2 separate regions of the Homo sapiens genome follow, and region 1 is linked to region 2. Evidence: fine-mapped expression QTL. Tissue or cell type: visceral fat. Region 2 holds a variant in brackets; the other region holds the start of a gene. All regions are shown on one strand. Distances are from middle to middle.

Region 1 (8,106 bases), 150 kb after region 2:
AAACCAACCAGAAAATCATTTGATACAAAATTCCCAATAATTATATTTTTAAAATATTTTTCTTTTTTTATTTTTCAAACATCAACTTGAACCAGAAATCCAATAATTACAAATAAAATTTACACTGTGGCTGGGCATGGTGGCTCATGCTTGTAACCCCAGCACTTTGGGAGACTGAGGCGGGCAGACAACTTGAGGTCAAGGGTGTGAGACCACCCTGGCTAACATGGTGAAATCCCACCTCTACTAAAAAAATACAAAAATTAGCCAGGCGCGGTGGAGCGTGCCTATAATCCCAGCTACACAGGAGGCTGAGGCAGGAGAATTGCTTGAACCCGGGAGGTGGAGGTTGCAGCGAGCCGAGATCGCGCCATGAACTTCAGCCTGGGCAACAGAGTGAGATTCTGTCTCAAAAAACAAAAAAAGTTACACTGTGAATTTTCCAAATGCTTCATTTTATAAATCTGCAAGTAAGAAAAATTTCACTGCCAATTATGCAAATTCCATAACGAACCCCAAAGATCTGAAAGATAGTTTCATAACACCAGGAAATTATGAGGTACCATGTCAATTAACATTTTACTCCATTTTATAGTTAACCAAACTATAAATGTGCTTATCTTTATTCTCAGGATCTGTTTTTTTCTTTTTTGAAAAGGAGTCTTGCTCTGTCATCCAGGCTGGAATGCAGTGGTGCGATCTTGGCTCACTGCAACCTCTACCTCCTGGGTTTCAGCGATTCTCCTGCCTCAGCCTCCCGAGTAGCTGGGACTACAGGCGTGAGCCATAATGCCCAGCTAATTTTTCTATTTTTAGTAGAGATGAGGGTTTCATCACGTTGGCCAGGCTGGTCTCGAACTCCTGACCTCAAGTGATCCACTGGCCTCAGCCTTCCAAAGTGCTGGGATTATAGGTGTGAGCCACTCTGCCCAGCTCAGGATCTGGTTTTAATGGCAATTTTTTGTATATACTCCCATGGCACCCAGACTTCTTTAAAACACATACTAGACTTAGAATTTATTCTTTGTCATCTTCCCCAACTAGGCTATTAGCAACATGGGGGTAGGTACTGCTATATCTTTCAGCCTAGAGTTCCTGGCACATAGTAAGTGCTTGGTAACAGAGGTACCAAATAAATCAATCACTGAGTGGTACTGAAATTTTAACTCCTTTAAAAACATTGAGGCTGAGATTCTGGTTAAAAGTCTATTCAGAGAAGCTGCTGGATAGAATGTCACAACAGGAGGCCGGGTGCGGTGGCTCACACCTGTAATCCCAGCACTTTGGGAGGCCAAGGCAGCAGGTGGATCACAAGGTCAGGACTTCAAGACCAGCCTGACCAAGATGGTGAAACCCCACCTCTACTAAAAATACAAAAATTAGCCAGATGTGGTTGCGTGCGCCTGTAGTCCTAGCTACTCAGGAGGCTGAGGCAAGAGAATTGCGTGAACCCGGGAGGTGGAGGTTGCAGTGAGCCAAGATCATGCCACTGCACTCCAGCCTGGGCCACAGAGTGAGACTCCGTCTTAAAAAAAAAAAAAAAAAGAATGTCACAACAGGTACTGGATGGCCTGTTTGGAGGCCTAATTCTAGACCCTATCTCCTATCTCTTACTCCCTTTCCCTACATTGCACTAGGGATTTCTCAGTTCTGCCAAACTTGGGAAGAAGTGTAAGATAGAGGCCTCTCCATCTCCTGAGATGTCCACTTCCCTGTTACTGTGCTCAACCCCCTGGGCATAGAACTGGAGTTCCCAAAGATGTTTCTGATTCAGGAATGTGAATCTGAAAGCACAAAGGGCAAATCAGAAAATGGAACTCATTGGTGTTTAACAAGAAAGAAGAGATATTTAATATTTAATAATATATATAATATATAAGAAATATATAATATTGAATGATAAAATTCCAGAGAGACTACACCAAAACTTAATAGTTACCTTTGGGGAATGAGAACATGAAGAAAGGGTGGTGGTGGGGTATTCCTGTGAATTTTTATCTTTTGTTCTACAGCCTTCTTTACTGGTTAAGTACTTATTTGTTAACCAAGAATGTGAAAACAACAGAATATCACTAACCCCAATCAAAGAGCCTCTCACTTCAAACAACATTTAGCTGGTATATAAGTACACGTGTGTTTACTTTGCTATTAGATCCAGGGCGGAGGTAGTGATTTTAAAAAAACAATTCTAGTAACAACAGGAAAAATCAAATTGAAAAACATATCAAGCACCATGGACTCAAAGGTTAAGTGTAAGTGCACTTGCCAACAATAGGTCTCAACTCAACTGAAAATGACGTGGCTTCCTTATCAATTCATGTTGTCCCCTGAATCCCCTTCTTAAGTAGGAGGGAAAAAACGTATTCCATATAGAGTTTGGTATGTGGGAAAGTTGTGTTTTTTGTTTTTGGGGTTTCTTTAGTTTTTTATTTAAGAGATGGGTTCTTGCTCTGTTGCCCAGGCTGGATAAGCTTTTGTTAATGCAAACGACATCTTATACTATAAGAGATACACAGAGATATACTCACAGTTTGGGGGAAATGTCTTACTAACATTCAGGTACTTAGTCTCAAAAATGAAGCTACTGAAAAAGCTTCATTCTCATGGAGGATGGGAAGAGTTACATACATGAGCAACTCAAGGGTTTTTTTTTTGTTGTTGTTGTTGTTGTTGTTGTTGTTGCTGTTTTGAGACGGAGTCTCGCTCTGTCTCCAGCCTGGAGTGCAGTGGCGTGATCTCGGCTCACTGCAACCTCCACCTCCAGGGTTCAAGCAATTCTCCTGCCTCAGCCTCCCGAGTAGCTGGGACTACAGGCGAGCGCCACCACGCCCAGCTAATTTTTGTATTTTTAGTAGAGAAGGGGTTTCACCATGTTGGCCAGACTGGTCTTGAACTCCTGACCTCAGGTGATCCACCCGCCTTGGCCTCCCAAAGTGTCTTTTTGTCTAATACTGAAAAGTTGCAAGAAACGTTAACTCTCTAAACCAGCGCTGTCCAATACAGTAACCACTAGCCACATGTGGCTAATGCGCACTTGAAATGTGGTCAGCCAGAACTGCGATATGCTATGCGTGTAAAATGCACCCAGGATTTAAAAGACTTAGAAAAGACTCCAAAAGAGAATGCAAATACTTCATTAATAACTTTCATAGTAATTTTAGGTTGAAATTGTTTTGATAAATTAGGTTAAATAAGATATGCTATTAAAATTAATATCGGTTTCACTTTTTTAAAACGTGCCTACTGGAAAATTTTAAATTACAATTTTCAATGCAGCTTGCATTCTATTTATGTTGGACAGCGCAGCTCGGAGCCTTAGTTGCCTCGGCGGTGAAATGGGGCTAACACCCACCTCGAGCGGTTACTGTAAGGATCCAGTGAATTAAAGCTGGTAAACGTTTGGCATATGCCAAGCAAAGGGCAGATGCCCAGGCAGGCGCTCGCACCAGAAGAGACTGAGAAGTGGTTGAAGCCGCCCTCACCTGGCTTCCAGCTACTGCAAGGACAGCCTTTGGGGGACACGCCTTTCTTCTTCCTCTGGTAGACCAGAAGCTGGACTATCACCCCAGGAACCCGAGGCCGCCCCAGAGTCTGCTGTGCTGCCAGCCAAGGGGTTGGTGAGTGAGGCGGGGGGCGCTCCTTCCCACAAGCTGGTCTCAGTGAGCAGAAACAGGGGTGCAGTGAGGAGGAACTCCAAAGCTGGGGCGGCCTGCTCGGAGGACGGCCGCGCAGGCTAAAAGAGCGGCCCGCGGAGAAGGCAAGGAGGCGGCTCGGCTCCCCGGACGTCAGCCTCGGCGGCCCCACCTACCTGCCCTGCAGATTCCCCGAATGCCGCGGCGGCCGCAGCTCCCGAGGCTGCGACGGCTTCTCCTCGTTCCACACCGCCCACTGGCTCCTGGTCCATCGTCGTCGCCACCACAGGGCTGCTGGCGCTGGTGAGAAAGAGGGTAATGGCCGGTAAGCCCACTTCCATCCTTGGTCTCCCCGCCCAGTCGCTGGCCGAGCCAGGCTGTCGGGAAGTGGGACTCACCCGCCCAGCGCCCGCCTCGCGCCGCGCCTAGCCAAGTCTCTGAGAAGGGGACTCGCCGGCCTGAGGGGCGGGGCCAGCCCGCGCCTCGCCTAGCCCGCCGGGCTCCGCACCCCGAGAGCTGGCCAACTGCAGTCTGGGAGGCGCAACTACCGGCTCGCGCGGGGCGGGGCGGGGCGGGGCGGGTCCTTGCGGGGCGTCGCTTCCGGCCAAGCAAGCATCCAGAGCTCGTGGATCCCCGCCTGGCACCGCCTGTGACGTCATTTCTGGTACGTGTACCTGAAGCCTGGCGTCTCGACCTCGGCGCAGCCCGTCACCAGCGGCGTCTGGGGCAGTCACCCCGCAGGACCTCGGTTTTTGCACTTGTAAAATGAAGACAGCTGTGTCGTTGTACTTCAAAGGCTAGTGATGGGATGTGGTTGCTGAAAAATGTAAAATGTACGGCTCGTGCTGCACTTTCCATTCCAAACGTGGGTGACAGTCCAGCCAAAATACCCTCGAAAGAAGAACCCCAGGCGTGATATTTGCTTACTCTTGTCTGAAATACTTAAGTATAACTGTAGAAAGTGTTAAGTGAAAAGACCTGAAGGAGAGCAAAGGGCAGTAGTAAGCTTCCATCTTGACAAATGTAAGGAATGTTTTATCTGTGTCTTAAAGTCGTGTGCGTATGTTAGAGGGGGCGTCCCAGATTTTTTCCGTCTTTCGCAATGTTCAACGAAAGTAAAAAATCATGCAATTACTGCATGACTTCAACATCAAACAAGTCTGAGGTTCTGCAGGTAAATGGTATATTGTTGTTTTAGCATGAAAGTTTTCACAAATATGTAGGGGGCAAAACCAAAACATACATTATTTTGGCTATGGGAGGCTTCATTTGATACTTTAAATTCCATTTTCATACTAGTCTCAATTCAGAAATGCTCCCTAAAGTTGTATGACCTTGTAAATGTTTTTCATCATAGCAACAGCAGGCCCAAATATTAAATATTCCTTTCTCTTCTGTGCCAAAGTTCTTCTCCTTACCCTCTGCCTAATGTTATTGTACACTTCCTATTCTATGTATAACTGGAACCTAAAAACAAAACCAAAAACTTTAAAAAACAAATAATCATTTGAAAACCATCTACGCCTTAAAAACTAGTTGGAAATCCATATTGCTCTCTATCCTGGTAATAAAATCAAGTTAGGTTGCTGCTGAAGTAAACAAGTTAGTACCTGATCTGACTCTGTATGGTGGCATCAGCAGGGAGTTGAGACAGTCCAAAACAGCAAAACCAAACTCGGCCATAAATTGAAAACAAAAATAAAGAACCAATTGTTAAGACTTCATGAATTGGCATTCATAAACAACACAGTTCTGCATTATATGTATTCAAAATCTCTTCCTTCTTACTGGCAAGCAGGGCAATCAACAATCTTTATTACTAAAACTTTGTGGGATATTTATAAATGCATGATTTTATTTTCCAAAGTGGCAATTAAATATCAAATTACAATTTTCTTTTTCTTTTTTTTCTTTTTTTTTTTTTTTGAGATGGGGTCTCACCCACGCTGGAGTGCAATGGCGCAATCTTGGCGCACTGCAACATCCGCCTCCCGGGTTCAAGCGATTCCCCCACCTCAGCCTGCCAAGTAGCTGGGATTACAGTTGTGCACTACCACGCCCGGCTAATTTTTGTATTGTTAGTAGAGACGGGGTTTCACCATGTTGGCCAGGCTAGTATCGAACTTCCGACCTCAGATGATCCACCCACCTCAGCCTCCCAAAGTGCTGGGATTACAGGCGTGAGCCACCACGCCTGGCCTCAAATTACAATTTTCATTGCCGAAGCAGAATATATTTTCACAGTTTACATGTGTATTTCTTAGTTTACTGAAAATTCAAAGTACAAGTTACATTCTAACGTGAACTGGAAGTATTTCCTAAAAAGTTATTTTTAACACAAATATCCAATTGAAGAGCAGTTTATTACAAATCAACAACTCGGGCTGGGCACGGTGGCTCACGCCTGTAATCCCAGCACTTTGGGAGGCGGAGGCGGGTGGATCACGAGGTCAGGAGATCGAGACCATCCTGGCTAACACGGTGAAACCCCGTCTCTACTATAAAATACAAAAAATTAGCCGGGCGTGGTGGCGGGCGCCTGTAGTCCCAGCTACTCGGGAGGCTGGGGCAGGAGAATGGCGTGAACCCGGGAGGCGGAGCTTGCAGTGAGCCGAGACCGCGCCACTGCACTCCAGCCTGGGCGACAGAGCGAGACTCCGTCTCAAAAAAACAAAAACAAAACAAATCAACAACTCAAAGCAACATAAAAGCATAGAAATTCTAATGGTTTTATTTTGGACATTTATATTTTTGTCATTATTTCCAAACTGTTATAGCTCAACCAAAAGTAGGCACCAAGGCAATGTGCCAAATTTTTCCTTCTTTCACTTTGTAACATAAATTGTATCGTAGCACTATGACAAAAATAAATTCAAGTATTATGATAATTTATCTACTTGAAAACATAATGTGGTCTAAATTTATCATTTAATGATACATATAGAGCTAAAAAGGTAAATTTGGATTGAACCATTTCTGCGTAAGGCTGGGAAAATAAATCTGAATAAAATTTGATAACCAGGAATGTTCATCAAATAAACAAGACATTCTTAGGGTTTTAACATAGCTACATATATATACTTTGATAGAGAATTTTTTAAGTTATCCATCAAACAGGACAATATATTTTCATCAAAAATAATGCACAAGAAAAAAAGATGATAAAAATAAAAATGCATTTTAGGTTCAGTCTAAGCATAAAGAAATTTTTTTTTTTTTTTTGAGACAGGGCCTTACTGTATCACCCAGGCTGGAGTGCAGTGGCACAATTATGGCTCACTGCAGACTCAGACGATCCTCCCACCTCAGCCTCCTGAGTAGCTGGCGTGTACCATCACACCTGGCTAATTTTTATATTTTTTGTAGAGATGAGGTTTTGCCATGTTGCCCAGGCTGAATAAGTTATTAAAATCATGGTAGTGGTTTCACTTATGGAGCACAATATGCCAGGTACTTTGCTTTCTTTGTATTAACTCTTATTCCTCACAACAATTCTGAAGTATTACTGTAACTACCAACATGTTATAGATGAGGAAACAAAGAGAAGTTAAGCAACTTGCTCCAGTGACGCAGCTGGTAAGCAGCAGAGCTGGGATTAAAACCCAGGCATTCTGATTCCACCACCTACACACTTAGCCATTCCGCCCCACTGAGAATGAAAATGTCAAAAAATACTAGGCCAGTAAGTGTTAGCAAGGCAAGAAATTTCCACACCAAAGGTGAGTATGTTGTTTGGAAAGATTGGGATGGAAATGAGTAAAGTATGTTTCTTTTTAAAAGTCTTTTAGTAAGCTTTAAAGCTCTATATGTAAGAAGCAGATGAAAATACCAAGTGAATTTTTAGATTTGATGTTATGTAAGGTTTTGTTTTGTTAATTAAAATTTGGTCATTTTGTGTGTGTGTGTGTCTGTGTGTGTGTGTGTGTGTGTGGTGAGAATATACCAGTGATATCCAATCACCAAAATTTTCTTTTTTTTTTTTTTGAGACAGTCTCACTCTGTCAGCCAGGCTGGATTGCAGTGGCGTGCTCTTGGTTTACTGCAGCCTCGATCTCCTAGGCTCAAGTCATCCTCCCACCTCGGGTCCCAAGCTGGGACTACAGGCACACATCACCACACCCAGCTAATTTTTGTATTTTCCCAGAAAGGGGTTTCACTATGTTGGCCAGGCTGGTCTCAAACTCCTGGCCTCAAGTGATCCACCCGCCTCAGCCTTCCAAAGTGCTGGAATTACGGGTGTGAGCCACCATGCCCGGCCTAGAATTTTCTGTATGGTATTAGGCATAAAATAACTAGCTTTCTTTGCACACTATGCTAGACTCAGTAATTTTAATGTTGGAGAGCTGTGCATCTTCATCTAAAATCTGTAGAACCCTGAGTGTCTTCTGATAAGAATCTATAACAAATATAAAGATATAATCCTTTTTTTTTTTAGACAGAGTCTTGCACTGTCACCTGAGCTGGAGTGCAATGG
Region 2 (8,106 bases):
TCGGGAGGCTGAGGCAGAGAATTGCTTGAACCCGGGAGGTGGAGGTTGCAGTGAGCCAAGATCGTGCCACAGCACTCTAGCCTGGGCAACAGAGTGAGACTCTGTCTCAAAAGAAAAAAACAAACAAACAAACAAAAAATTTTGCATACTTAATATTTTCACAATCATGGAATTGTCGTGGCTTTTGGGATTTTCACCTTCAAGTTCTTTTGGTAAAATATTAATACTGTTAAAATACTGTATTTTTATCTTGCAGGATTATTTTGGTTCATTTGAAGACGAATGGCTGTTTCCATTTATCCTCCAAGCTTAAACCCAATAAGATTACCTGTTATCTCTTTCCTCAACAGATGAGAAAATTTTCAGGGGGTTTTCCTGATATAACAGAGGCTTTCATAACATAACATGGAGAAAGAGAGACCTATTATAATTGGAAAGTTTCCATTTCAATTAATTCTGTAACTTTACATGCATAAGCAATTTCTACTTATTTATAGTCTAGGTAAGACTGACTAAACTAAATGATGTCAGGTTGACTTTGCAAGCTTCTTTTTTCACATTAAAGAAATACTACGGTCTCAGTCTGTTCACACAAAACACCTGAAACTAGGTAATTTATAAAGAACAGAAATTTGTTTCTTCAGAGTTCTGGAGGCTAGGAATTCTAAGATCAAGATGCCAGCAGGTTCTGTATCTGGTGAAGACCTTGGGTCTCTGCTTCCAAGATGGCACCTTGAACACTGTGTCCTCACACAGTGAGGCAAAAGGAACAGAAGGACAAAAAGAGCTGAACTCACTCCCTCAAGCCCTTTTATAAGGGTGCTAATCCCATCCACGAGGGCAGAGTCCTCATGACCTAATCACCTCCTAAAGGCCTCACTTCTTAATACTGTGAAATTGAGAATTAAGTTTCAACATGAATGTGGAGTGGACACATTCAAACTATAGCAAGTACTCACTATAATTTTTTTTTTTTTTTTTTTTTTAGATGGAGTCTCACTCTCTCGCCAGGCTGGAGTGCAGTGGTGCAATCTCGGCTTACTGCAACATCCGCCTTCCGGGTTCAAGCGATTCTCCTGCCTCAGCCTCCCGAGTAGCTGGGACTACAGGCACGCACCACCATGTCCAGCTAATTTTTGTATTTTTTTTTTCAAAGGAGTTTCACTCTTGTTGCCCAGGCTGGAGTGCAATGGCACGATTTCGGCTCACTGCAGCCTCCGCCTCCCGGGTTCAAGCAATTCTCCTGCCTCAGCCTCCGGAGTAGCTGGGATTACAGGTGCCCGCCACCAGGCCTAGCTAATTTTTTGTATTTTTAGTAGAAACAGGGTTTCGCCATGTTGGTCAGGCTGGTCTCAAACTCCTGACATCAGGTGATCCACCTGCCTCGGCCTCCCAAAGTGCTGGGATTACAGGCGTAAGCCACCACGCCCGGCCTAATTTTTGTATTTTTAGTAGAGACGGGGTTTCACCATGTTGGCCAGGATGGTCTCAATCTCTTGACCTCGTGATCTGCCCGCTCAGCCTCCCAAAGTGCTGGGATTACAGGCGTGAGCCACTGCGCCCAGCCCTCACTATAATTATTTAACAGACATCGAAGGCAATTCTGATACTAGAACTTACATAAGTACCTCTTCAGAGTGCTTACTACACAGCAGTAATATTAGGGACATATGCTTCTTTTTGTAACCAAACTTTTAAAGAACTGAAATGAAATTATAATTATAAAATTTTAAAACAAGGTCTAGCCCTGCTGTGGATTACCATGGATCTGAAGTGAAAAAATCAGCTTAAAAATTTATTTTCCAAGAGTCAAAGGGCAGGAGTCCTCCTATTTAGTCTTCTCACCAACTTCCTAGCATTAGTTATTGCTGAGGTATTGAGGCCTGTTTAGTACTTTCAGAAGCCTCTCTCAAGCTCACCCACTGTTCTCCTGACTCCTTTACTGCTGATGCTTACACAATCCATTCACCGGTTCGTAACAAGAATGTTGTGAATAGTACTCAGAGTGCCCACATGGCCCTGCCCTCTGAGGGTTCACAGGAAAAATCCCTTTGGTTTCAATATTAGGAATAATGGAACATTCTCTGAACAATTTGTTTCTATTTAATCTTATGAATTATGTGAAGCCTATAAATGAATGAGTCTTATAGTGGAAATAGCTCCTTTGGAAGATATACCAGAATTGGGTGTTCCTTCAAATTTCCCCATTCTCCAAAGCTCTGATTTCTCCCTTCTGCTACTGCTCTTAGCCTACCTCCTTTGAGAATCTCTTTAGGAAAGAGAAATGTTTATGATGAGAATGTGAGGTACTTACAAATGATGTGCAAGCAGATAAAAGCATGAGCCCCTGCTCTTAAGTGATCATGTTATCATCTTCAGGTTTGCTGACAGAATTTACAGCCAAATTAATAGAGCACTTCACCATATGCATTTTGTGCACCAACCTTAAACCTTTTATTTCCCTAAGCTTATTTTCCCTTTGTACCCTTTTTACATTAACTTTATTTTAACTTATTTTAAATTTATTTTATTTTCTGTATCACATATATTATAACCATCTTACATCTTTCATAAGACAAAATGGGGTAGAAATAATATACCAATAAGGAGTATCCACTTGAGTTGGCAGAGTGAATACTCTAAGGAACAATATACCCTTCCTAATACTATCTAGAAAAAAAGCCATGTCTAAATCACTGCAAAAGAAATCTAAGATCTGAACTGATCTTAATCAACTGATCTTAATCGTATTTGACTGGGATAAAAATCAGCCTTTATATTAGTGAAAATTGTGAAACAGAAACAATTTTAAAAGGAAAAAAATGCTGTTTTAAAATAAACATTACCAGAAAATTATGATTAAAGTGTTACCACTGTAATAATTAGGTAAGAATAATTTATATAGCTTTATAAACAGTTTAAGTAAATTTACTACTCACTCTGCAATTGCTGTTTACCTTACTGACAACAAATATTTAAACTTTTCTTGTTAAAATGGATATTATATTTTCATAAGTGGCCTCTTCCTACCACACTCTCAATGAGAGTGTTTTAAAACACTGTGATGGAAGCAAGATATACACAATAATGACTCACGAGACAATCTCACCACACCCTAAATGGTTATCACACAGACATTATCAATGACACATCAGTGATGGGAAATCAACTTGCTATTAGGATTTTGCCAGAGAGAGAAAAGATATGGGAGCTTGGCAACACAGTGTTTTTAATGCTGTTCAAAGACACTGGATCACTTGACTTCTACAACAATTGGGGAAATCTTGTTTCAAACACTATGCAGAATGTTCCTTTCTGGGACATTTGAAAAGAAAGGACTATGAAGCCAAATCACTATAGAAATTTTGCCTGGCTCCATTCATCTTGCTAGTTATGCCCTTGATCACTTCACTAAAAACCCACCTGACAGTTGATCATTAACTTCATTAGCAGTTGGTAAGAATAATTCTGAGTGATGCAGACGATCCCAGCAGTCACATGACAAAACATAACTCTTAACACATGTCAAGGCAGGAGTGGGTGAAGTGATACATGACAAAAGGAAGTAGTCAGCCTGGCACTGTTTGACCTAGGGCAATATGACTTCCCTGAGTTGCCATGTCATGAAAAATGAATAGTAAGAAAAAAACCCAAGAACCATTCTTTTGTGTTCTTTAGTGAATTCTGGATTGGCATCCACTAATGCAAATTTGTTTCCTCAAGTCACTTATATCACCCTTGACTACCCAGCAGTAACTCCTTAAAACTAAGGAGTCATGATTAGATTTACTTTTCCCCATGTGATGAAAATATTTATTTTCTGAGACAGGGTCTCACTCTGTTACCCAGGATGGAGTGCATCAGCGCAATCACGGCTCACTGCAGCCTAGATCTCCAGGGCTCAAGTGATCCTCCCCCCGCCTCAGCCTCCTGAGTTGGTGGGACTACAGGTGTGTGCTACCATACCCAGCTTATTTTTAAAAATTTATTTTTCGTAGACATGGCAGGGGGCAGGGGGGTCTCACTATGTTGCCCAGGCCGGTCTCTAACTCCTGGGCTCAAGTGGTCCTCCCACCTCGGCCTCCCAAAGTGTTGGGATTACAGGTATGAGCCACCATGCCTGGCCTGAAATAGCACTTAAATGCTGCTA[A/C]CTGATTAGTTGTTTTAAGATTCACAGCCCAAGTTTATAATTTCTATTGACTTATTTATTTTTAGATCTTCTTCCAAGAATCCACATTAACAGTGACTTGTTTGGATGATATTTATTGGGGGATATTTCAGATTCCCTAGGGAGAAGCTTACAATTACATTGCTTTGATATTACATATAATTACTTTAAGTCTGAGGTTTTTCCCAATTTATACATTCTCCTTGGACTCCTTAACATATGTTTCTTAAAGTCATAACTAGGTAATTTAAACTATTATAATACTAAAGTAACTCCTTGATAACATAACTGTTGGTTATGAAAACATGAGAAGCTTCTTTTTTGAAAATGAAAGAAGTATATCACTCTTAGAACTAAGTTCCAGTTTCCTAAGTTTCACATATATAGTTAAAAAAATAGATTTCTACCCTAAGAATCATTAAAAGACCTATCTGACTTCTAAAATTGCTTGTTTTTGAGTTTCTCAAACTCAAGTTTGAAAATTAATATTCTGCAGAAGAGCAGAAACATTAGTGTTTAAGTTTATACCATTAAAGATTTATTTTAGTTTCTTATCTTTAAAATATGTGTGAGTTTTTAAAAAGAACTAGAAAAAGTATTTGTAAAAATACATAACTATATAAAGGAAGAAGTGACTGGTCAGTGGAGAATTTCTACTTCCAGGCTTTTTTCCCTGAATATACATAAAAACACACACAGTAATTTTTTTTTTATTTTCAAAAAATGGGATCATCCTGTATATTTTGTTTTCAACTTGTCTTTTTCATGTATCATGGGTACCTTTCTATGTCAGTAAACTCACCTCCAGTACTCAGTTGGCTTCTGTATAATTTCCAATTTTTTGCTATTACAGAGATACAATGAAAATTATGTATCTTTATGTACCTGTGCAAATATTTCTGCAGAACAGATTTCTGAAAGTGGAACTGATACATCACTGTATATTTTGAATAGATACAGTACCAAACAGACTCCATAAAGCTGAATTAACTTACATTCCCACGTATGGCATAAAAGAGTATGGCCTAGTTAATGTTTTCTAATATCTATAATTAAAATATTTTATATAATAAAACACTGCATATGCTAATACCACATTTATCTGAACACTGTTCAAATATAAGTTTCATATAAATGAATTTCAAGATAAATAAAACAAAATCATGTGTGAGAGGAACTTTCTGAAAAGCATTATGATTTTCTTGCCTTCTTAATTATGCAGATAGTTACAATTTACGATTTTCTTTACAATTATAAATTTTCAAAAAAGAAATCACAATTTGCCTATCTTTTGAAATAGGATATACTAGTCATAGTTTAAGACTTTCTTTATAATTTTGAAGATTATATATTGGATGCTACTTTCTTTAATACAGTAATGGCTGTTGAGGCTACTGAGCTGTTTGCTGGAAGGCTGAGCTGGATCCAGAAGGTTGCACTTTTTGACTTTTTAAAAAAAAATTAATTAATTATACTTTAAGTTCTGGGATACACGTGCCAAACGTGCAGGTTTGTTACATAGGTATACATGTGCCATGGTGGTTTGCTGCACCCACCAACCCGTCATCTACATTAGGTATTTCTCTTAATGCTATCCCTCCCCTAGCCCCTCATCCCCCGACAGGCCCTGGTGTGTGATGCTCCCCTCCCTGTGTCCATGTGTTCTCACTGTTCATCTTGTACTTATGAGTGAGGACATGAGGTGTTTGGTTTTCTGTTCCTGTGTTAGTTTGCTGAGAATGATGGTTTCCAGCTTTCCCAATGTCCCTGCAAAGGACATGAACTCATCCTTTTTTATGACTGTATAGTATTCCATGGTGTATATATGCCACATTTTCTTTATCCAGTCTATCACTGATGAGCATTTGGGTTGCATTCTTGTACACCAATAATAGACAAACAGAGAGCCAAATCATGAGTGAACTCTCATTCATAATTGCTACAAAGAGAGTAAAATACCTAGGAATACAACTTACAAGGGAAGTGAAGGACTTTTTGACTTCTTATGGCAGCATTTTTCTTTCAACCTGGACAGCAGTCTCTCTCTTCTCCCTAATGTAAGCATACCTGCCTCTAGTAGTAATCCCATCCCTCCACTTTCAATCCATGCATAAAAACTCTAATATGCTGCTCCTCATATATATATTTGAAAAAGAAAAAAAAATTCCTCAAACAGCTTCTCAGAGCAGACATGAAGACAGTATGTTCTTCAAAGAAGGACACCCAAGTGTGAATAAGACACCCAAGTTTTGGGACATAAGGGACAAGACATTCTACCTCTAAAGCCAGATGTTAAGAGAGAGTCTTTAAACGGGAGAAACAATTATATGGAAAAGAGTATTTAAAAGTCAAGGAGGTATGATAAAAATTCTACTTCAATATTTAACATTTCCTATTGTAAACATAATAGGGTATTTCTAAGTTTCCTTCCCACTTTAACGTTATTGAAACATAATTTCAAGCATGGGGATCGAGAAACTCACATTTCTACAGTTGGGGCAAAAAAAAAAAAAAAATACACCCGGGATTATATACACACAAAAATACTGAGCATAGTTTATTGTATCTTAGGTGCTTTATGGTATTGAAACTTTTACAAGAGGTTATGTAAATCAACAGAAAGAAATAAAATAACTTGAGTGGCAGAAAAAATAAGAACTTACTGTCAAGTAAACACTTTACCAAATGACCTTTAATGACCAATACTTGTGCCTCTATTTTTCTCTCACTGTAGTAAAACCAACTAACAGATGGCAATCAAAACAAATTCTACAGTGTTTTCACCAAACCACTTTCTATTCAATGCCCCAAGCATGCTATAAGAATGAAAGCATTCAGTGCTGGTGTCAGCCATAATTCTTTTAAATTACATTATAAATTTTCATTCTGCTGAAGCCATTTTAACCAATTCTCAGTTATCCACAGAAATAGGGAGCAGAATTTTGAAGAACTAGCATGATTAACTAAAATGATGTGCTTTTCCCCCCATACATCTTCTATTAGAGGAGCTTATGAACACTGAAAATCCAAAATGCAAGCTGCAAAAGGAACAAAGAACAAAAGCATTAGGACTGAATTATGGGTAGGTATGTGGGGGAAGAGAGAATGAGAGAGAAAATGCAGCATTAGAAGCTTTCCACTTCATATCCTTTTTCTTTTTTTTTTTTTTCTACTCTGTCACCCAGGCTGGACTGTAGTGGCACAATCTAGGCTCACTCAACCTCTGGCTCCCGGGTTCAAGCGATTCTCCTGCCTCAGTCTCCCTAGTAGCTGGGATTACAGGCACGCGCCACCATGCCTGGCTAATTTTTGTATTTTTAGTAGAGACAGGGTTTCGCCGTGTTGGTCAGGCTGGTCTTGAACGCCTGACCTCAGGTGATCCACCCTCCTTGGTCTCCCAAAGTGCTGGGATTACAGTACAGGTGTGAGCCACCATGCCCGGCCCCTCCTTTTGTTTTCTTAATGGAAAGTTATTATACTATGTTGTCCCTGCCTCCTCAAGGGGGTCTCACAGCACCAATTATTAGTGATAACTGAAAAGAAAACCTAATTTATTGAAATGGAAGTTACAAAGGTATGTGTAAAGTATGAGTCATGGAGACTTTTAGAATTCCCTCCCTGATCATTCTAGGATAAATGGTCAACAACAGCATGGTCTCTTTTCACAAAAAACTACTATGAAGGAACTTGATATTGAAAAAGACAATCCAGGCAAAGACAGTTTTGCATTGCCATGTTGAAACTCATCTCTAGTTCCTGGGCTAGACTTGGCAATCCTGATGTAACTGAAAATACAGACAGAAGTGACTAGGCAGAATGAGGTTACTTTGGAAGAATCAAGAAAGACCTTTGAGGTGCTGATAATAATCCAGCCATTTGAAGATGGAAGAATATTAAAGAAATAGCAAGTACGAAGATTTGGAGGCAGGCACAAATTC

The links. PIP is the estimated chance that this variant, and not a neighbour inherited with it, causes the effect.
Region 1: FAM177A1 starts here. The variant in region 2 is fine-mapped to the expression of FAM177A1 in visceral fat (GTEx, PIP above 0.99).

Annotation. Positions count from the first base shown.
Region 1 is chr14:35,042,331-35,050,436 of GRCh38, reverse strand. FAM177A1 (family with sequence similarity 177 member A1) reads right to left here and starts at 4,165. Exons shown (of 5, transcript NM_173607.5): 1 at 3,809-4,165. The coding sequence starts at 3,973. RefSeq lists enhancers at 3,296-3,355, 3,456-3,725, 4,446-4,645 and a silencer at 3,976-4,325.
Region 2 is chr14:35,192,213-35,200,318 of GRCh38, reverse strand. The region is part of intron 5 of PRORP (protein only RNase P catalytic subunit); the gene reads right to left. The region is part of intron 5 of PRORP-PSMA6 (PRORP-PSMA6 readthrough); the gene reads right to left. Among named protein-coding and RNA genes, the nearest start is that of PRORP, 74 kb to the right of the region's middle. The variant A/C (reference allele first, on the strand shown) is at 4,151.